Linked DNA regions of Homo sapiens. The protein of the gene in region 1 purifies or fractionates together with the protein of each later gene. This does not show direct contact. Each region holds a gene or a part of one and is shown on either strand. Other genes may lie near its edges.

Region 1 (11,943 bases):
AAGGTGGAGAAGCCCCACTCTAAACCAACACAATAGAAATAAAATAATGCTCTCTTACCTCTCCTGTATAATTATATTTGCCTTTCAGAATCTTCCTGTAAAGCCTTGTCTGGCTTTCATCATCAAAAGGCAGGAATCCGCTAAGTAAAGCATATGTGATCACACCAAGAGCCCACATGTCCACTGCACTGGTATAAGGCTTCCTTAGCAAAACCTCAGGAGCTATGTACTCTGGGGTCCCACAGAGTGTCTTCATTGTCCAGTCACCACTTTTTTTCCCGGAGTATGCCAAACCAAAATCTGTAATTAAAATTTTCGACTCTTCACCTGGATGATAGTATAAGAGGTTTTCAGGCTTTAGATTCCTATGAGTTATCTGCAGCGCATGCAAATACCTAATCCCATCAGCAACCATCTGGAGGATCCTGACGGCATCCCGCTCTGTAAAGGATCCCTGAGCAATGAGTCGATCAAAGAGCTCCCCTCCGGTAGCCAGCTCCATTACCATGTAAACTTGATCCTCAGTCTCAAAGATCTCCATGAGCTGGACAATGTAACGATGGCTAACCCGCCGCAGGACGCTCAGCTCAGACACGCACGCTTCTCTACCTTCCCTCTCTCTGGTTTCCATCACTTTTATTGCAAAAGGTTTCTTGGTGGTCTTCTGCTCTACCCTGACAACCCTGCTGAAACTGCCTGTCCCAATAAGAGCTTTGATGTCATATCTGTTGGGAAGAAAAACCAAACATGTTATCCCCAGAAGTGATGATTCTCAAAATTATTTAAGTCCATGCTTTATATCATCTTTTCTATCCTTCTATTCCTCCCATCAGATTTATTTGTTTATTATTACTTGTGTTTATTATTTTTTGAAAGGTACCCCAAATCCTGTTTTGAAATGGAGGAAAACGATATAAAGGTAATTTGTTGGTAGAAAGACAATCTTAATACAATAACTACCATTTATTATACAGTTATTATATGCCAACAATTTTTAAAAATCTTATCCCTACTAAAACCCTGCTGGGTAATATAATAATATCCCCCTTTTTCAAATAAGGAAATTCAGACTTAAAAAGAAGTTAAATGAGTTATCAAGGGCACCCAGATTGTGGTTGGAATGGATGGGATTCAAATCCAGCCCTTTCAAATGCATTTCACAAAAACTGTTTCAAGAATGTTAAGACCCCCCTCTACCAATTTCTTTCCTTCCTCTAGCCCTTGTTTTTGTCATTCTTCAACAACAAACAAATCAAGTGGGGGAGAATAAAGTAGAAGCTTACTCCTGTTTATAATTTCTCAAAGGCTGAGGATCCCATATCAGAAGACAGAGAATAAACAGTATGTTTCTTTGGGTTGCTTGACTGTGAGCTCAGCCCCAGGCTCATCTTGTACACAGTAGCTGTTAATAAGGAAGAAGTAAATGCAGCTGTGCTATTATAAGAGCCGGTTTCAGCAGTCTGGTGGGAGTAGTGTTAGGGCCACCTTGCAGCCAGTAGCTTCTCACAGTCTCCCTCCATCCCCATACCCACACTTGGAATTTCTCGGCAGTAAAGAGAATTTTAACATGGAATGTATGTCAATAATTTGTAAACCAATTATCCCACAAAAAGGCCAAGAACATATGTTTACCTACGTAACAAACCTGCACATCCTGCACATGTACCCCTGAACTTAAAATAAAAGTTGAAGAAAAAAAGGCCAGGATATCAGCTCAGATTTCAAATGCTAGGGATCTTAAGCTTTAATTATCTGTGTAAACGTCTATTAAAATTTAAGAATCTGGCCAGGCACGGTGGGCTCATCGTGTAATCCCAGCACTTTGGGAGGCCGAGGTGGGAAGACTGTTTGAGCCTAGGAGTTTGAGAGCAGCCTGAGCAAAAAACTGAGACCCCTTCTCTATAACAAATTTAAAAATTAGCCAATCATGATGCACAGCTGTAGCCCCGGCTACTGAGGGGACTGAAGCAGGAGGATCCCTCGAGCCCAGGAATTTGAGGTTGCAGTGAGCTGTGATCAGACCACTGCACTCCAGCTTGGGTGAGAGAGCGAGACCTCTGTCTCAAAAATTAAAAAAATAAAATAAAATAGAATCCTATCAAATTTAACCCTCTACCTCATATTTAAGACATGTTGAGAAAATGCTAGACTTAAAATCACGATTGTATAGCTGGAAAGAATATTAAAGTTGGGTATTTAACCCAACTTCTTGTTTTACTGATGAGGAAATTTGAAGACCACATTAGCCAATTGGTTGTTTACGTTGTAGAGTCAGGATTAGAACGCAGGTCTCCTTTTTTTTTTTTTTTTTGAGATGGAGTTTTGCTCTGTCACCCAGGCTGGAGTACAGTGGCATGATCTTGGCTGACTGCAACCTCTGCCTCCCGGGTTCAAGAGATTCTCCTGCCTCAGCCTCCTGAGTAGCTGAGATTACAGGTGCACACCACCATGCCTGGCTAATTTTTGTATTTTTTTTAGTAGAGACGGGATTTCACCATGTTTGCCAGGCTGGTCTTGAACTCCTGACCTGAAGTGATCTGCCCACCTCAGCCTCCCAAAGTGTTGGGATTACAGGTATGAGCCACTGTGCCTGGACTTCATTTTAATAAAACCTCTCCTAGCTAAGGATGACAGAGAATGGAATGTACTCAGGGAGTACCCAGGGAGAAGGCACGTTTTTATATCACATATTCAATACCAAAGATTCAAATGCAAATACTAAACTATGCTTTAAATAGTCTTACTTCTTTTATTGAGCTTATTTTTCCTGTAACTTTTTTTTTTGCCTTCTTGTTTGTTCTTTATATTCCTGTGTGTATTGAATAAAAATGACATTTGGCTGTACCAGATTACAGAAAACAGCTTTGTTCTCCACAGAGCATTTAATTTTCTGGCCAATTACCTTATCAAAACAGATAGCAATTTAGTAATCTTAAATAGATTCTTTCCCCTTTTCCCTTTCCAACTCTGCTTTTCTATTCACATGCATTCTCAGTGTGATTTTGAAGATAATCACAGGCATTTCAAATTCTATTGCTTTGCAGACCAACCAAGTTTTATATTACCTCTATTGTGGATGAAAGCACTTTGTAAATGCTAATTTATCGCTATGCCCTCAAAGCTGCCATCAAACTCATTTGTTCACAGAATTAATCATATCAAACAAACTACCATTTCTGAGAACTACACGCTTTTGCTCAAATAAAAGAAGCTTTATTCAATACTGTTAAGGGGGCTTCATATTTCCAATATTTGAAAAAATGCTAGTAATTTGGCATTGGAGGAAACAGTACACTTGAAGCCAAGATTTAGAGTGGTGGAAATAAATGCCTCAGATTGTTATTCAATTTGTCCCATAACAAATTCTTATAGCTACAGCCTTGCTCGTGAGTCCTCAACTGCCATGAATGGTGACCAACTTTATGATTTGCGTGGCTATACCTTGTAAAGTGCCTAGCACAGAGGAGTAGCAATAAACACTGAACAAAAGAATCATTCACTGAATACATATTATTCCTGAATCATCATATATATTTTGCAAACATTAAGTAAAGATCACATCAAGCTGGGAAGAATGCCTTTATAAGGTCTTTTCATTTCCTTCACTTTTACCCCTCCACTCTCTTAAAGAGTAGCCTCAGAGTCAGTTTAGTAGGTTGGACAATTTTGTATCATCCCAGAGACTACGTAAATTGGAAATATTACTTTAACCTCAGCTGCTATGATACAAACTGGGAATTTTTGAACATAGATTAAAGATTTGAAACAAGGAAATAATAATAGTGTTACAATCTGCTTGAGAGAAACAATTATAATAAACTCCCAACAAGAAAGTAAATATACTCATATCTAAATTCTATCATCTCTTTTCTGCAAAAGTTATAGATGGAATCACAACGGAGAAGGAAGACGACTGTGTTCTAGTCCCAATTCTACCACTAACTTGGACAAGTCACTTAACCTTTGGGGACACAACTACTCATTGGTTAAAGATGAGCCTTGAGTTAAAATCTCTGAAGCCCTTATAATGTTGAGATCCTCTACTTCTGTGATGCCTTTACACTCTATGGGGCTGGGTCTACCCCTGGATTGGGAATTAGTAGGGTGGATGAAAACTAGACCAGACTAGCATCATCTCTCTGACTACAAATGACCAGAGATGCCATTTAACCAATTCAGTCTTGACAAGACCCTGTACCTACTCAGATTCAGTTCAGTCATATTAGCCAGCCTTGTTCTTCTGTAAGCTTAGCAGCCACCGAACTAATCCTCCAGGAGTCACTGTACTAAAAGTTCTCAAGGAGGCCAGGAAATGGCTCTGCATAGATTCTGGACAGAGCACTGTGACGAAGTGAGCATGCAATTCTAGGACCAGCAGTGCCTTGGGAAGCCAGCTGAGCCACCCATTATTGTGTCTCCCCAAACACACAGAGGAGAAGGGGATTCCGTGATTTACTTGGTCAAAATGTCCAACATGTCCAACATGGTACACTCAGGAGGCCAACCAACCTGAAATCTTCTACATAGGAAGGGCTTATTTGTACTTCATGAAAACAATAATCAGCATTGCACTAATGTCTGCATGAGGACTGGTACCATGCACTGTGCAGCATAATTTACATGTATTACTTTAATTATGCTCACAACAGTCTTATGAGATAGATACTCCCATTTTACAGAGCTAGAAACGAAGGAAGGAAAAAAGCTAAGGAATGTTCTACATGGTACATGATAGAAGATATGGAACTGGACCTCAAGTCTGGCTGACTCAAAGGCGCATCTCTAGTTCACTCGCTGTAATCCCAATTTTTAGAATTAGTGGAAGATCCTTCACACACCAGGTCTGGCAGGACCCAGCCCCAGGATATTAGAGGCAAAGCCGTCTTCCACCGCAGATGCTGGAGGTTGGCAGACAGTCCTCTCACACCCCCACCCCCCACCTCCGAAGATAGGAATTCCTTCCCTTGTTTGCTGCTGCTCCTGCTCTCTTTTTTCCCATCCTCTGAACTCCCTGTTCAGAGATGTCAAAGAGAAATTGTACTGGGCACTTATGGAACACAGCAAGGAAGGCTTATCCCAGACTATTGCAATAGGAGTCGAGGCTTCTGCAACAGGGGAAAGAAAATGGACGCCTTCGAAACAAAAGGCAAGAAAGTTTTTAAGCGCTGGGGTGAGCCAGTGGAAAAGAATGGGAGAAGCTTAGGGAGAGGTGGTCAATGAGATCTGTGTTTGCTACCTGGCCCTTATGGAAGTTAGGCTCCTGCCCTCCCACAGAGACTGGGAGACAGTGGCCCTAACTCTCTTGATGACTACATTTCAAAGGGATGGCTGCCAGGTGCCTGAAAAAGACACTCTTGGGTTGTAGAAGATTTACATCTCAAAAGGGCAGAGAAAGGGGGAGATCAGTGCCTATCATCCGAAAGAACCCTGTCCAAAATTGAGTCAAGCTGAAGGGAACCTCGAGGCGGTCTTGGCCAGGGGTTTTTCTTTGTCAGCCCAGTCCCAGGCCAGTTCCTCACGTGGCGCTTTACCTGGCAAGGACCCGGGGGTCGAACTTGGCTCGGAAGCGAGCCACCTGTATCCTCTGCGCCGCCTGGGCCGCCGCCTCGGGCCCAGGCCCCGCGCCTCCGACGCCGGCTTGGTTTTGACCTTCGTGCTTGGCCCAAGCCAGCGCTGGTGGCCCCGGGACCACCTTCCTGCTGGCGCCGCACCCCATACCCGCAACACGCCCGCCGCTCGCGGGACCTGGGGACTCGGGAAGCAGCCAGCCCCGTTCCTCCGCCCTTTATCAAAGAGCAGCTGCGAGGGGCGGGACCCTCGGAAAGAAACCCCACTGGGGGGTCGTGGTCAGGGAGACAGCCCCCAGGATACCCGCTAACGACCGAGACGCCTGGATCATCGCTGGTCACCGTCTGTGTGTGTAATCTGACGTGATGAAAGCAAAGTCAACCAACAGGCAGAACCTGCGCCTAATTGTCTGGGCTTCACTTTCTGCATCTCTAACCTGACAAAGTGAACATATAAAATTATACGATTGTATAAAGGATATCGTCCCTCTAAAGAACTTTTCGCTGAGCTCATATTCGGATGACATGAACATTAAACATACATATATATATATATTTAAAATTCTAAGAGCTTATAATATTTAAAGTATAACTTCACTGCCTTCTATTGCATTAAACGGATGACAAAGGCCTGTGTCTGGCACTCATGACCTTCATCTTCCGGGTAATCCATCTAAGAGAGAAAAACTGAGGGCCACGATAGATGTCTAGAACCCAGACGAACACCCTAAGCAAATACAGTGAGAAAACCTGTATATACATATACAGTGTATATACAAAACCCGTATATACAAATATAGTGAGAAAACCTGTATATAGATATAAATATATATAAATAAATATAAATATTATGTATGGTAACTTTACATTTTCTATATATTTCATTCTTGTATTATTTATACATATTATACATGTATGTGAATGTGTGTATATATATTATACACACACAGTATTATAATACTTATAAATATTTATCATTTTGATAAATGTATATTGATTATATCACTATATTGATTAGATTTCATTGATATTTGTCAATTATATTCATTCACACACACACACACACACACACACACACACACAAATGATGTGTGGGAAATGAAATCCAGTCACGACCAAGCAAGTCAAGATCACATGCCTCCCAAGTTGTAGAACCGGAACTGGAGGCTGCTTCCCGATTTCCAGGCCAATGCTACTTCAATTTGTGTAATTTCCTTTCTAATTTCATTTAATTTGTAGTTTGGCTTAACAGGGAATGTCTGTGATGAATAAATTAGTCATGAACTTTCCCAGAGCTATATTTTGATGGAAAATTTAAAATACGGCTTGCATATAGCTGAGGGAAAATTAGTTCATCCTGCAAAGAGAGCATAACTACCAAATAATGGACTTTTCTTCCTAAAGAACCCTCAGAATTCTCCAACTACTAAGAAACAAGGAAAGAAGGTTTATTTTAAGCAGGTAAACAACTCGTTCTTATATGTCTCGAGCTTTTGAACTAATTTGCAGAATAGGCTATCTATTAGGTTAGAGCAAAAGTAATTGTGTCTTTGCCATTAAAAGTAAAGGCAAGGCCGGGCATAGTGGCTCACACCTGTAATCCCAGCACTTTGGGAGGCCAAGGCATGTGGATCACCTGAGGTCAGGAGTTCCAGACCACTGTGGCCAACATGGTGAAACCCCATCTCTACTAAAAATACAAACATTAGATGGGCCTGGGGGTGCGTGCCTGTAGTCTCAGCTACTCAGGAGGCTGAAGCAGGAGAATTGTTTGAACCTGGGAGGTGAAGGTTGCAGTGAGCTGAGATCGCGCCACCACTGCACTCCAGCCTGGGTGACAGAGCAAGAGTTCATCTCAAAAGGCAAAAGCTGCAATTACTTTTGCACCAACCTAACAGTATAAACAGAATGGAAGAGAGAAATAAAGGGAACAAACTGAAGTCAGATGTTAAGGTACTACTCAAAAAAACACAAAATTTTTTCCTCAGAGAGCCTGTTGTAAGGATTGTTTGCATAAGGATCGCACAGCAAATAGGAAGCATCTGCTATAAAACCTAAACCTGGGCAGCAGTGAAGGCGCCAGACACTTCCACGAGGCAGGCAGTCCCTCTGCCTGTCCACCTTCTCCCAGCAGTGAGGGCCTTCATAGTAGGCTGCAGAAACCTCTTCTGTCCTGTCTGCAGCTGGCCGCACAGCAGAGAAAGCTTTGTCACAAGCCTCCCACTAAGTCTAAACCATGTTCCTTGAAAATTGGAAAACACAGTCGCTGATTTTAAAGCCCTTAAAAAATGAAAACATTGATGAAACCACTGATTAGTTCTCTTTTGGAAAGCCCCAACTATTAACTAGAAGTGTTGTTGATGTAAATACTTTGCCTGGAGACAAAATTTAAGTACCTGTGCATTTGAAACTTTCACTTTCAAGGACTTCCACTAAGCTCTGAAATGTTAAAATGGTCATAAGTATATCCTTTTAATATGACTAATCTCAGAAAGAATAATTCATAAAGTAACATATAGAAAAATATCCAAATACATAGACTCTCCTGCATGTATTTCTCTTTATTGTGTATAATTGCTTGATTATATGGAGACCACTCAAGCATTGTTTGGGACCATTTGCTATTCACCCATTAATTAACTATTCATAGTTATTTCAATTATATATTTAACTTAATTAAAGTAATAAAATGTTAAAATAGCTCTAGACTTAAGGCCAGCTTTAAATGAAGCTTTATTTTTATATCAATGTGTTTAGTGCTTTTAAGTGGCTACCTGTGACACTTAAAGCAACTGAATAAATGGAAATGGTTCTGTGACATGGTATTTATTATAAAAAGTAATTAGATTGGACCTCCTTCTTAATAAAAAAAAATCGTATTTCAACTGCCATTTATTGCCCAAAAGTCACAAATTCTTACTAGTCAACTGTAACATTCATAATAATGTGTAATACATAGCTCCCATCACCTGATACCAGATTCTACTCTACACGAAGTTTTTAAAGAGAAGAATTAGAAGGACACAAAGAATTAAATCCAGAATGTGTCCTGGACTATCGAGATTCTGAAACTATAGAAACTTCCTAGAATAACTTTCTGACTTACATTTCATACAGTGATTTAATTAAGTGGCTTGGTTTATGACAGATATTCTTCACAAAGTATAATCCAACCCCTAAAGAGTATTTCACTGTAAGGATTTAAGGAACTATGCCAAATCAAAAAATCATTGCAGATTTAGACTAACATTTAGGGAAAACACACTTCTTTCTTTCATGAACAATATTGGTGGAAAATATGGAAAAGAATACAATCGTGATATTCTGTCATCAGTTTTTATTATACTCCAGCAACATGAAGAGTACAAAACAAGTAACTACGGATACCCTAAGGAGTGATATACCAGGAAGCCCTACAATATTATACCCTCCTTTACCTTACAGCTAAAAAGATAGAACCTTCATTTTTAACAGGTAAAATGAAGAATTTGTTTCACTTATTAGTTCTGCTTGAAATAGCTTCAATGTTGTTGCTTTTCAAGTTTTAGTTCTCTTTAGATCCCCCCCTACAGGGATTAATTTTCTCTAAAGTGATCTCCTGCCTCAAACATCAGTTTGAAGGTATACATCTTATCAGCTTCCTTTTCCCCAAGGTGTAGGGTCTGTGTTTGTCATGACAACTGGCATGGGGCTCTTTTAAGCCAATTTCACATACACCATGACGTGTGAAACCAACAATGCAAAGCTACTCTCACAGTTTTCTTCCCATAAACAAATAATAATGAGCTTCTAAGTAGGATGTCTTTGTGTGAAACTCAGAGATGGTGGGCACTTTCCTGCCACCCTGCCAAACTATTTTGCACTATCACAACACCTTACAAAAATAGGACTGTAATAATCCAGGCAAGTCAGTAATAATTTTTGAATTACTGAGAATATTTTTCTGTCACTACACTAATGAATAATTCATGTTAACTTGCATATCTTTATATTTAGCACCAAAGAAAGAATATTTAGCTTTAGTAGAATTTCAAGTTTTATGTTTTGTCTTGTAACTATAAAAAAGAAAATAAAAATTAGTATATAGTAATAAGTGATAGAAAAAATCTCTGCTGTCCAGTAAAAACATAAATTTCATTTTGTTATTGTAGTGACTTAAAGAAATCTCCAGGCACAACAGGAAATGAAGTTTTCTTATTTTGATGCACAAATTTAAAAAGATAAAGTGATAGGGTATTTCACTGTATTTTTGCTGATTTGCCTAAAGGATTTCTGCCTTTTCAAGTTGGCAATTTGCACCCAAAGCTTTCAAAAACGATGGCTAGAAATATGTTTAGTTGCATGGTAAAATAGTTACAATATGTTGCAAGGTAAAAAAAAAAAAAAAAAAAGCCTACATGGCATGATCTCATTTTTAAAATCACAGATAAAATAAGTTCCTATGGTGAGGAATGGAGGCCTCCAGCTGACAGAGAGCAAAGAACTGAGGCCTGCGACAACTATAGGCGTGATCCTGGGAACCGATTCTCAACCTCATCTGAGCCTTGAGACGACTGCTGCTCTGGCCGACAGCCTGACGGCAACCTCCTGAGACAGCTCTGAGAGGAGATTTTCCAGGTTCAAGTCCCGGTACACCACTTACCAGTTCTGTGACCTTAGGAAAGATATTTAACCTCTCTGTCTTCTCAGTTTTCTTATCTGTGAAATTGAAATAATAATAACACAAATGTTATAGGGTTGCTGGGAATCATTTAATTCTTTTACTTTTTATTTGTTATTTTTTACAGACTAGGTCTCTTTCTGTCAGCCAGGCTGGAGTGCAATGATATGATCACAGCTCACCACAGCCTGATCACAGCTCACCACAGCCTTGACCTCTGGGTTCAGGGCTCAAGCAATTCGCCCACCTCAGCCTCCTGAGTACCTGGGACTACAAGTGCACACCTCTACACCTAGCTAATTTTTTTTTTTTTTTGTACAGACAATGTCTTGCTATGTTGCCCAGGCTGGAAATAATTTAATTCATGTGAAGCACTTACATCAGCACCTGGAATATTATAAATGCTCATAAATATTATCTTGTATAAGTGAATGGTCCTAGGTGTGGTGGCTCACACCTGTAATCCCAACACTTTAGGAGGCTGAGACAGGCGGATCAGTTGATACTAAGAGTTTGAGACCAGACTAAGCATATAGTGAGACTCTGTCTACACAAAAAATTATCCTGGCATGGTGGTGTGCACCTGTAGTCACAGCTTAAGCAGGAGGATCCCTCGAACCCAGGAATTTGAGGTAGCAGTGAGCTACGGATCACACCACTTCAGTCCAGCCTGGATGACACAGCAAGACCCTGTCTCAATAATAAATAAATAAATGGCTTCAAGGGGTTGCATTAGTTATCTATTGCTGCATAACAAATTTCCCCAAAATTTTACAGTTTTAAAACAACAAGCATTTATTTTCTGAAGATTGAGTATATGAGAGGGTAGATCTGGCTCAGGATTTGAGGAGGAAGGTTGCGGCCAAGCTGTCTGATGAGGCTACAGTCATCACAAGCCTTGACAGGAACTGAATCCCCTTCCAAGTGCATGCACGTGACTGTCAGCAGGCCTCAGTTCCCAGCTGGCTGTTGGCAGAAGGCCTCCACTCCGCACCACGTGGGTTTCTCCATAGGCTGCCTGAGTGTCCTTGCAGCATGGCAGCTGGCATCCCCCATAGCCAGTGAGGAGTGTGAGTGTGCCTGAGCAGATGAGCAGGAGAAAACACAAACAGAAGCTTCGGTCTCTCATAACTCAATCTCAGAAGTGGCATGCCATCACTTTTGCCACATGTTGTTAGTCATGCAGAGCAACTCTTGTCAATGTGGGAGGAAACTCCGCAGGGATGTGGCTACCAGGAGGTGGGGATTTGGAGAAGCCATCATGGAGGCTGGCTTCTACTGTCATGGAACTGGGACTGATGAGTGAAATTTCACTACAAAGAGAATTCTTTTTTTTTGAGACAGGATCATACTACGTTGGTCAGGCTAGTCTCCAATTCCTGGGCTCAAGTGATCCTCCTGCCTCAGCCTCCCAAATTGCTGGGATTATAGGTGTGAGCCACCGCACCCAAAGGGGAATTTTGAAAGTCAAAGATAAATCTAGAGATGAACACTATGCTTAGGAAATTGCAGGCTGTCGATCACCAGAGCTGTTTAAGCAGCCTGGGCACCCCTTGGCCTTGCTGAGGAAAAGGATACTCAAGCACAAGAGTGATTGGACTTGAATCTTCAGATCCCTTCCAAGTCTGGGCTTCTGTGACTTTTTCTTTCATGTGGTCAATTCTAATCATAACTAGGTAGTAAACCTCTTGAAAACCTAACTCTTTGTGTCCAGCC
Region 2 (11,166 bases), on another chromosome or scaffold:
GCTACCTGGAAGAGGCCTACCTTTCAGCTTCCCACAGCACCCAGGAACCTTAAGAGCTGCTGACCTGCTGGTGGGCCTGGCCAGAGCCTTCTCACCAGGCACAGCTATGCCTGGTCGTCAAGACAACCAACAGGCAGCCAGAACTACGGAAAATAAACTTTTTTATCTGGATTCCAGGACCCTTATCCTAACCTTTTACTTTACTATAGTACCTCTGCAACCTACGGGGCAGGAAAAAAAGGGAAGAAAAAATACTGGGGAAGAAAACACAGCACTGTTTGGCAGCTCCTTTGGCGCGCAGGAAACTGCCACCCCAGCCTTGGCTTCCTGGGGCCAGGTTCCAGATGTGTGTTGACAAACTGCAGCTTCGATCATCTCCGTGTGCCAGGATCTTGTGGCCGCGGCAAAGCACCTCCCCTATCTACTCTTGCAGCACTTACTGGCCTCCATTATAGGCATAATCAGCCTTGTTGTGCATTATCAGCTTGTTGTCAACAAAGTAGAAGCTGTCAGAGCGGGTCTCGTAAGGATTTTCAATCATTAGACGAACTGCAAGTCAGGCAAAGGGGGAAGAAAAAAGCAAAGAATTATGTTTGAGTCTGCCCCACAGGGTAGGTGGGAGAAAACTTTGCATCCCCTCCAAAATAAGCCAGCGCTTCAGAGTATACTCTGCCAGAATAACGATGAGGTCAGAACAGAGGGAGGCAGCCCTTGACAGCTGGGGAGACCACAGAGGCCCCCCAGCTGAACATGATCTCCATTTCAACATAAGGATGCAATCAACTCTCCACCATGGCCTCCTCTGTCATCTCCAGCCTGGATTCTTCAGCCAAGATACCAGGGAAATGTGCTCACCCCTCTTCCCAACATGGACCCCACCAACCTATTTACTCAGTGCTCTCAGCTGACCAAAGCCAGCCCTGGCCTCTGGTCAGTGGCCCACCTCTAGACATTCCACTCCAAATTCAGAAATCTGAGCCTCACTGTGCCCACCTCCACACACAACCCTGACAACCCAAGGAAACCTAGATTGGAATGAGTGCAAGGAACACAGGGCAGGGAGCCTTCTCCGGAGACCTTCTGGGTATTAACTCGCAAATGATTCAGCAATAGGTCTGCCTGTCTTGGGATCTAAAGTAAAGTCTTGTTTGTTCAGGCAATTGCCCAGACCTCTTTAACCATACTGGAGAGTAAAGATAATTAACAGTCACTACCTCTGATCAGTTTTGAGTTAATGATTACATGCCATTTTGAGTCTTTAACCATACTGGAGAATAAAGATAATACTACCTCTGATCAGTTTTGAGTTAATGATTACATGCCATTTGGAGTCCCCTGGAGGAAATGCTGTTGCTCACCACAGTTCTCAAAAAGTGAAACTGATTTTTTAAAGTTCTTTGAACCCACCAATGCCAAAACTACTCGGTTTATATGCATAATATTGCCCTCCAGGCTGATTTGGCTTCATGGGTAAAACTTATAACACTATACATCATCTTTTCTTGCAAGTATCTACATATTCTAGCCAGCTTGGGAAGAGGGGTTCAAGTCAGAACCAGATGCTGTCGTCAACACCCTGCCCCACATCTCAGCAATCCTCATTTTACCTGGGAACTGTACTGCCACACGATTAAAGGTTATCTGGTTTTCAGAATATGACAATTCTTAAGGACCTGGGATTCTGAGAGGACCAATCAGTGATGCCAGCAAGGCAACTACAGGCATCACTAGTCACAGGATTCTATTCACACCCTCATAAATGACTTGAATTTTCCCTAACTATTCACAAAGGATGCGAACCTGAGGTGGCTAGGCCAAAGTTGCAGAAACTGACAAGGGCTGTTCTTTCTCTCTCGTTTGGTCCCCATCTTCCCTTGCCGAGGCTACACGGCAGCAGCCTTCTCCCTCTGGTGCCCTCCCCAGGTCTAGGCCACTCTTCCTCAAACAGTATTTCCACCTTCTCACTCCTGCCCCAAAATCTACAACAGCCCCATTCCTTCCTGCTGGATCTATCTCAACACTTTATCCAATCAACTCTCTATCCTGCAGGGAATGGAAAAGAAGTCCTCTGGCCTTGATTCTATTTAGCCTGCAGTTTCACATCTAGCTCTGATTAAGAAAAAAGTGAAGGGCCAATGACTAAAACACAATGGAAAACCATGACTAACAGTGCACAGGAGAGGTGCTTTATCTGATCAGCGTCCCAGGGATGGTCACAGGCCTCCTTTTATCTCCCTTAGGCACTGTCTTCCCACAGGAGGCATCTAAAAGGATGGCCTGTATTATTAAAACCTTCAGACCGGCCGGGCGCAGTGGCTCAAGCCTGTAATTCCAGCACTTTGGGAGGCCGAAGCAGGCGGATCACGAGGTCAGGAGATTGGGACTATCCTGGCTAACACGGTGAAACCCCGTCTCTACTAAAAATACAAAAAATTAGCCGGGCATGGTGGTGGGCACCTGTAGTCTCAGCTACTCAGGAGGCTGAGGCAGAATGGCATGAACCCAGGAGGCAGAGCTTGCAGTGAGCCGAGATTGCGCCACTGCACTCCAGCCTGGGTGACAAGATCAAGACTCCGTCTCAAAAAGAAAAAAAAAAAAAACCTTCAGACTGAGCACAGTGGCTCACGCCTGTAATCCCCAGTACTTTGGGAGGATGAGGCAGGTGGATCACAGGGTCAGGAGTTCGAGACCAGCCTGACCAACATGGTGAAACTCTGTCTCTACAAAAAATACAAAAAATTAGCCGGGCATGGTGGCAGGTGCCTATAATCCCAGCTACTCGAGAGGCTGAGGCAGGAGAATCACTTGAACCCAGGAGACGGAGGATGCACTGAGCCAAGACTGCGCCACTGCACTCCAGCCTGGGCAATAGGGCAAGACTCCGTCTCAAAAAAAAAAGAAAAAAACAAAAGGGCCGGGGGCAGTGGCTCACACCTGTAATCCCAGCATTGTGGGAGGCCGAGGAGAGTGGATCATGAGGTCAAGTGTTCGAGACCAGCCTGACCAACATGGTGAAATCCCGTCTCTACTGAAAATACAAAAACTAGCCAAGTGTGGTGTAATCCCAGCTACTCAGGAGGCTGAGGCAGGAGAATCGCTTGAACCTGGGAGGCAGAGGTTACAGTGAGCCGAGATCGCGCTGCTGCACTCCAGCCTGGGCAACAGACAGAGCAAGACTCTGTCTCAGGGGAAAAAAACAAAAACAAAAACAAACAAACCCTTCATTGCTCCCATACGGGCCGAGTCAGAGTTTAGAACAGGAGCCAGGAGCAATAGGAAATGAGAAGCCTGAGGTCAAATGACTAGATACGCATCATGTCAGCACTGCCACGAGACAATGCCAGGGCGCTGGACCAGATGGGTTTCAAGGTTTGTTCCTTGTAGCCCTCAGAATCTAGAGTGCTGTAAGGGTCAGGGGATACATACTGACATCCTCCGAAAGCTGGGGAAACTCATAGATATGTTCACAAGTGTTCCTACTGCTGGGGATGCAGAAGCCAAAATCAAAGTCAAAGTTTTTCAGCAAGTGTTCCCGGAAATAGTGCCGTTCGATCATCCGGAAGTTTGAAACAGGTTTGTCTCCCACTGTGAACTCCACCCTGGAAAATAAATCTCTGTAAGCCCGACTTTGCCTCCTCCCTCCTCTAAAGCCAACCCAAAACCCAACCGAAAACACTCTTCTCTGTGAACAAACAGAATGTTCTCCCCTCAGGTAGTAATGGTACTCACGTAGCCCCGACTGTCCGGAGGCGGAGAAATGCCGGTGTGAACTGATAGCGGACAAAACGTCCTGCGCTGATGTCCACGTCTCCACCTCCCTCCTCCTCATCCTCCTCCTGGTCTGAAAGAGCACACAGAATCTTCAGTGCACCATCTCGACATTCTCAATCCAAGAGTTCTATCACCAGTCCCAACAGCACAATGGCAACCAATCCCAGTAACCACACCAACAAGAAGAATGGCCAGTGTTTACTGCGCACTTGCTATATAGCAGGACACTTGCCATAGTCCAGACTCCTTACAACAACCCTTCGAGGTGTTACTGTCTCTATTTTACAGATCAGGAAGCTCAAGTTCAGAGAAGTCAGGTAACATGTCCAAAGTCCCTCAAACAGTAAGAGGAGGGAACAGGGATTTGAATCCAGGTCCATCTGACTCAAGGCCTGTTCTTCAACACTAAGCTATTAGCCTTTTTTAATAGTTTGAGAGCTTATGCCATATCCTAAGGGTGAAACCTGAAACACAAGCTGGGAACTGGGCCTCTGACATGGTCTATTCTATTCAGACTAGGTCTGCAGTTAACCAAGTTGAAGCGCTAGCACCAACCTAAAAGAATGAGGCTACAAAAGTTGACACTTATCAGAAAGTTATTTCAATGAATATAAAAATTTCTGACAGGCTGCAAAGATAAACCACTAAAAATAATTTTGTTATTTAAATAGAAGACATTGACCTACAGCCTTGGGATACTATAGTTCCTTGACTGATGTTTACTTCTAGGCCATACCAGGCCTAACCCTTTGACCACCTGGGAAAGGGTGAAGCAGATGTGGTGGCCTCTACAAGGTTAATGCTGGTCTCCGGTCTAGTCCATTCCTGAACCCAGGAGATGAAAGATTTGTAAAATGAATCAGAGGGCTGGGCACGGTGGCTCATGCCTGTAATCCCAGCACTTTTGGAGGCCGAGGTAGGCGGATCCCCTGAGGTCAGGAGTTCAAGACCAGCCTGACCAACATGGAGAAACCCTGTCTCTACTAAAAATACAAAATTAGCCCAGCGTGGTGGCGCATGCCTGTAATCCCAGCTACTCGGAAGGCTGAGGCAGGAGAATTGCTTGAACCCGGGAGGCGGAGGTTGTAGTGAGCCGAGATTGTGCCATTGCACTCCAGCCTGGGCAACAAGAGTGAAACTCCGTCTCAAAAAAAAAAAAAAAAAAAAAAAAAAAAAGAATCAGAGAACAAGCATTCTAATGTGAATAGGAGTTAGTACCCTCCAGTGTCCAGTGAGGATATTTTCTCCAGGTCTAAGCTGTACATGAGTACAACATAAGAGAAGACTTTTTCAGCATCAAACATCTCTGCTTTTGACAAGCCCAAGAGCGACTGGGCAACCAGGCTGAGTAGGGGTTCACCCCCAGAGACTCTAAAACCCTGGCTCCAACAATGTGACTCAGAGAGACAGCAAATCTTGGGGATTCAAATTCATCAGAACAAGTGCTGCAGAAAGGTAGTGATTCAGTGTGAGGATAATCTGTTGTTTATATTTATTGATTTATTTTGAGATAGGGTCTCACTCTGTCACCTTTGCTGGAGTGCAATGCAGTGATCACGGCTCACTGCAGCCTTGATCTCCCAGGCTCAAGCCATCCTTCCACCTCAGCCTCCTGAGTAGCTGGGACCACAGGCATGTGCCACCACGCCTGGCTAATTTTTTTGTATTTTTTGTACAGATGGGGTTTTGCCATGTTGCCCAGGCTGGTCTCAAACTCCTGGGGCTCAAGTGATCTGCCTGCCTCAGCCTCCCGAAGTGCTAGAATTACAGGTGTGATCCACCGCACCCAGCCTCAATGTGGGGAATATTACAAGTGAATCAAGATCCTTAAATGTAAAAACTAGAGAGACTGAAAACCAAGATACTTTACAGTATCTTCAGCTGACCTTCTTGAAACAGTTCCGTCTTATATTGAAATGACAACTCTTGAGTCTAATCCAAATCCACATACCTGTAGTAGGCCTGGAGTCCTTGCAATGTCCCAGGTACTGTGATATGTGGCTTAGAGATGAGAACACCACAGACCCAGGAAGCTAGCTGGTCTTGATCTGACCATCCCAATAAAAAACTACCCATAAGCAACCAGGCGCGGTGGCTCACGCTTGTAATCCCAGCACTTTGGGAGACCAAGGCAGGCGAATCAAAGGTCAGGCGTCTGACACCAGCCTGACCAACATGGTGAAATCCCGTCTCTATTAAAAATACAGAAATTAGCTAGGCATGGTGGTGGGCACCTGTAATCTCAGCTACTTGGGAGGCTGAGGCAGGAGAAGCTCTTGAACCCAGGAGGCAGAGGTTGCAGTGAGCCAAGATTGTGCCACTGCACGCCAGCCTGGGTGACAGACCAAGACTGTGTCTCAAAACAAACAACACAAAAAAAAAACCCACAAAACAACAACAACAAAATTACCCATGAACTTGAGCCTTTAGGTGCCTTGGTCAGTATGAGATTATGATAGCATAAATACCACCAGGTAGGGGTGAAATCGGGGCCTTATCAAATTTGCAGGCTCTAAGTAGCAAATCAGATGAGAAACACTGCAAAGTAAGTTTACAAACCACACTGATACTATGGGTATCTGTACCAGTGTTCTAACAAATGACTAACTCCAGGGGGCGCTAAACCTCCAGTGAGGTGCTCCAAAGGCTTCTGTGGTCCAGATCAGCCTGGCACTTTATCACAAGCACAGGAAGCGGCTATGGGAGGCTAATTTAAGGAACCCCAAGTAGTTGAGTTCCTGGGTCTGTTCTTCCAGAAAATGGTTGAGATTAAAATCCAAACTAGGTCTGGGAACTCCAAGGCAATATGTAAAAGAGAGCAAGAAGATGGCTCAAACTGCCTCATGTCTGGACCAGGATCCTCCCTATCACCCTCCAAGAGGGCACCAGGCTCAGGTGAGTTTTCCTCATTATAGTTTAATTTCAAGGATTCCTTTCCCAACTGGAGGCAACATGGTAAGATGAACCAGCACAGGGCCTTAGGAAAGAGCCGCCTGGGAATTGTAGGCCTCAGATCCTTCGCTGTAAAACAGAGATAACAGTAATTCCTCAAAGAGGTGTGAGGATTACATACACTGATGTGCACAAAGACGTGGAACACAGTGACCAGCACAGAATAGACATCCAACAAACATCAGCCTCTGAACGCAGCTTCAAACCACCATGCCTGGCAGACCAGGCCACGGGAAGAGGTCACAGAAGTGGGACACACTGGAGTCCAAGAAACAGGATGCAGTGGCACACAAAGATTTGAGTTTCAAAGACCTTTGGCTCAAAACTGTCTAGTGGTCACCACAACGTAGAGGCCTACCTGAAACGCAAGGTTTGGCAATCTCAAAAAGTACTGTCCCTGTCTCCAAATCTCGAATTTTGAAGCGGGTGAAATCAATACTGTAGATGTTGTCTTCGGGTTTACATAAATAATCTGAAAACAAGAGAGAGAAACCAACACTGTTAAATAATCCTCCAAAACTACCATTTATTTAATTCTCAAGTTTTGAAGCAAACTCAGATTTTTTCTTACACAACACACTTAAAATACTCCCAAAAACTTTCTCATGTGTTATCACCAGCAGAAGTTGTATGGACAGAATTAGGGGATCCAACAAAGAAAAAAAATAACAAGGACTTGCTTTGGATGAAAAATTGCAAAACTTTTAGAAACTAGGATAGAAAAGGTGGATTTCTTTGGAAACACATAAAAATCTTTCATCATCTATCAAGTTGGATGTCAGAACAGGGCGAACTTTTTATAGAATTCCAATCTAAGACATTTAAACTGACTTAGCAGATAATACAGTGCTAGTTTGCCAACGTTAGTTTGCCAACTGTCAGTGTAAGAAAGCCGAGATCAGCAAACTTTTCTGTAGAGCCAGATTCTAAATAATTTAGGCTTTGCCGCCACATGGTCTCTGTCACAACTACTCAACTCTATCATTGTAGCCACAAAAGCATCCACAGACAATACGCAAATGAATGAATGTGGCTATATTCCAGTAAAACTGTATTTATGGACACTGAAATATGAATTTTACATAACCACGTGTCTCAAGATTTTAAAGTTTTTTTCAACCATTTAAAAATGTACAAACCTAATCTTAGTTTGTGGGCTACACAAAATCATACAGTAGACAATACATATCATACATATCCAGGCAAGAGGATAAATCTGCCGGTGAAGACATTAGGCCCAAGTGACTAGAACATGAGCCGCAAATTGAAATAATTCTAATCACAGCAAATTTCACTGATTTCTTTCTAGGATGATTCCGGATAGCATCTTCTCCACAGCTCATTTTGATACTTGATCTTTTATTGCCTGAGTTAGTTGTTTTCGTGTTTTACAAGTTGTCTCTTTATTAAGACGACAAACTTGACAACTACTGATTATTCTGTAACTGCTAAAAAGGCTAACATTGGCTTTGGACTCTTAGAGGGTACTCAAATAATCTGCTGGATAGAATGAACGAGACGTTAAGAAGAGTAACAAAGAGGTTGCCAGACTCTAAGAAGCTGCAGAGGTGGGTTTGGACAATGAGCAACAATCCCAAGCCCCCAGATAGGATCTGAGTGCCCACTGAGAATCCTGCTTAGGGCCAGGCACAGAATACCCTAACTCACTTGGATGGCAGGAGAGGGCATGAGGTTACCAAGACCAGGTGCTGAGCATCTGTACTTTCAGAGCCCCAAATGAAAACTGGTTCAGAAGAAAAGAAGCTTTTTCACACTGTTTCAATAAAACTAACAAGAATGTCTAAAGATACGTTCAGGTCTGGTAAGGACAGTCTCAACCCAAACAGTATTGGGAAACGGGGGCATCCAAATATCTAGAATCAAATTAAAACTCTTTTAGGAAATGGGAATTCCCTTTCGCACAGGGTGGACCAAGGCCTACTCCCCCCAAATTTCCATCCCCAAATTACTAGAGCTGCAATCGGCAACCTGAGGTGCACCTGAACAGCCCTGGGCTGCCTGCTATAGCAGCTCAGCAGACACCATGGCAGCCTTCGATCCATCCAGGGAATGTTGCTGCTGCCACAGGGTTAGGAGACTGCACGCCAGGAGTGATGGGCAGGCCAAGATAGGCCTAACTAGGTGAGTGCACACTCCTGCAGGGAAAACAGCAGCAAGAGAAAAGACGTCAAGTCAGGGACTGGCTTGGCAGAGAACAGAAAAAGGGAGATCACCCAGGGCAGGGACTGGGCAACATTTTTCTTCCCACCCATCCTCCTATCAACGAAAAAGCTTAGGATGGTTGCCTTTTGTGCAGGAAACGCATTTCTGAAACTCTGAAATCATTCTTAATTCACGAGAATGTCAAAAGCAGGATTCACATGTCGGAGTCTGTACACAAACTGAAACTTTATTTTTGTTTTAATGTGGCACAGTTTTAAATGAGCAGGAAATGCCACGGCTATGTGTTTTGAGGAAGAACCCATCTGCACACTAAGGGGCAACGCTCCCGACCCAAAGAGGGAGGGAGGCCGGGCAGGCTGCAATGGGGGAGGGCTGCCATGGGGCCAGGGCGGAGGAAGCAGGTAAGGCTTCTGGCCTGCCAGAGGGCTGGGGGAGCCTGGCTGAGCGGGAACTTCACTGATGGCCGGGGGTTCCAGGCTGAGGGCCCAGGGGCCCATTTATTAGGGGACCTCGGCCCCCGGCCGGCTCAGGAGGATCCAGTTCAGCTGAACGGGGCCCTCTACCCAAACAGGTCCGGCAGAGCTGGGGAGCCGACCGGCCGAAGGGCATCCTAGCGTGGCCGGACTCACAGGAATGCGGTCCAGCCCAGGAGAGTCCTTCCCCACCAGAGCTACGTGAGCGTGGCGGGAGCAAAGCCCGGCCGGCGGGGCAGCGGGAAGCGCGGCCCGGCCGGCCGAGGGGGTCTGGCGGGGACCCCCGCGCTGGTCAAGTGGCCGGGTCCGCTGAAGGCTCCGGGAGCCGGGGCACGGCGCGAGGGGAGGGCGCGGCCCGCGCGGCACTCACTCTCGGTGACCCGGCTGAGGCGCAGGACGTGCTCGGGCCGGATGGTGTCCAGCGCCAGCAGCTCCTGCTCCGTGACCGCTGCCCCGACGCCGTCGTCGGCCGCGTGGTGGGGCGCCTGCCGCCGCGCCTTCAGGCGGTTCAGGACGCCGCCGCCCGCCTTCTTCTTCTCCTCCTTGCCAGCCACCAGCCCCCCGGGCCCAGCCGCCGACGCCGCGGCCGCAGCCTTCGGGTTAGACCCGCTCATCGCTCCGCCGCCAAGATGGCCGCCGCCTCCACAGCGCGGTAACTATGGAGAGCGGGGGCGGGGCCCGGGGCCCGGCGGGGAAGGGGCGGGGAGGGGGCGGGGCGGGGGCGGGGGCGGGCGCCCGGGGGGCTGTGGAATTCCCTTTCGCACAGGGTGGACCAAGGCCCACTCTCCCCAAACTTCCATCCCCAAATAACTAGAGCTGCCATCAGCAACCTGAGGTGCACATGAGCAGCCCTGGGCTGACTCCTATAGCAATTCAGCGGACGACACCATGGCAGCCTTCGATCCATTCAGGGAATGCTGCTGCTGCCACAGGGTTAGGAGACCGCAGGCCAGGAGTGATGGGCAGGCCAAGATAGGCCTAACTGGGTGACTGCACACTCCTGCGGGGCCCGGGGGGCGGTGCTTCGGCTACTGCCCCAACTTTGGTCCTGCCAGGTGGAGGGCCTAGGGGTGGCTGGAGCTTCAGCAACCCCACTCCCCATCAGACCCCCAAGATCCTCCACGATGTTTAAATACATATCTTACGGTCAAATGAATTTACGTCATATAAACTTTCCTCCTCCTCATCCTCCTCCTGGTCTGAAAGAGCACACAGAATCTTCCGTGCACCATCTCGGCATTCTCAATCCAAGAGTTCTGTCACCAGTCCCAACAGCACAATGGCAACTAATTCCCAGTAATCACACCAAGAAGAAGAATGGCCAGTGTTTACTGCGCACTTGCTATATGGCAGGACACTTGCTATAGGGCAGGCTCCTCACCTCACAACAACCCTGTGAGGTATTACTGTCTCCATTTTACAGATCAGGAAGCTCAAGTTCAGAGAAGTCAGGTAACATGTCCAAAGTCCCTCAAGCAGTAAGAGGAGGGAACAGGGATTTTAATCCAGGTCCATCTGACCCAAGGCCTGTTCTTCAACACTAAGCTATTAGTGGACAATGCATCTTGAGAAAATGTTTATTAATATATTTAGCATAGAAGGTAAGTTAAAGCAGTGTTTGTTTTGCAAAGGCAGTTTCAAGACAAACTTTCCAATGAGATTGCCATCCGTAAGCCCTACTGTGCCAGGCCCTGGGCTAGACATTGGGCTAGGCTACAGGAGATGTAAGAGTGAGGGCAGGGATTGGGTCTGCCTCACCCCTGAATTCCCAGCAGTTCAGCTAATG

The links.
Region 2: the proteins of PSKH2 (region 1) and UNC119B purify together in Homo sapiens (affinity purification with mass spectrometry; 3 studies listed by BioGRID and IntAct, with this or other methods). This does not show direct contact.

Annotation. Positions count from the first base shown.
Region 1 is NC_000008.11:86,063,907-86,075,849, forward strand, and holds the start of PSKH2 (serine/threonine-protein kinase H2), read right to left. Parts: upstream 5,717-11,943; coding exon 5,532-5,716; intron 5,012-5,531; coding exon of another isoform or gene 4,941-5,011; intron 726-4,940; coding exon 59-725; intron 1-58.
Region 2 is NC_000012.12:120,709,303-120,720,468, reverse strand, and holds the start of UNC119B (protein unc-119 homolog B), read right to left. Parts: upstream 10,012-11,166; 5' UTR 9,995-10,011; coding exon 9,751-9,994; intron 7,196-9,750; coding exon 7,082-7,195; intron 3,842-7,081; coding exon 3,730-3,841; intron 3,600-3,729; coding exon 3,427-3,599; intron 550-3,426; coding exon 437-549; 3' UTR 1-436. UniProt on the Homo sapiens protein: Myristoyl-binding protein that acts as a cargo adapter: specifically binds the myristoyl moiety of a subset of N-terminally myristoylated proteins and is required for their localization.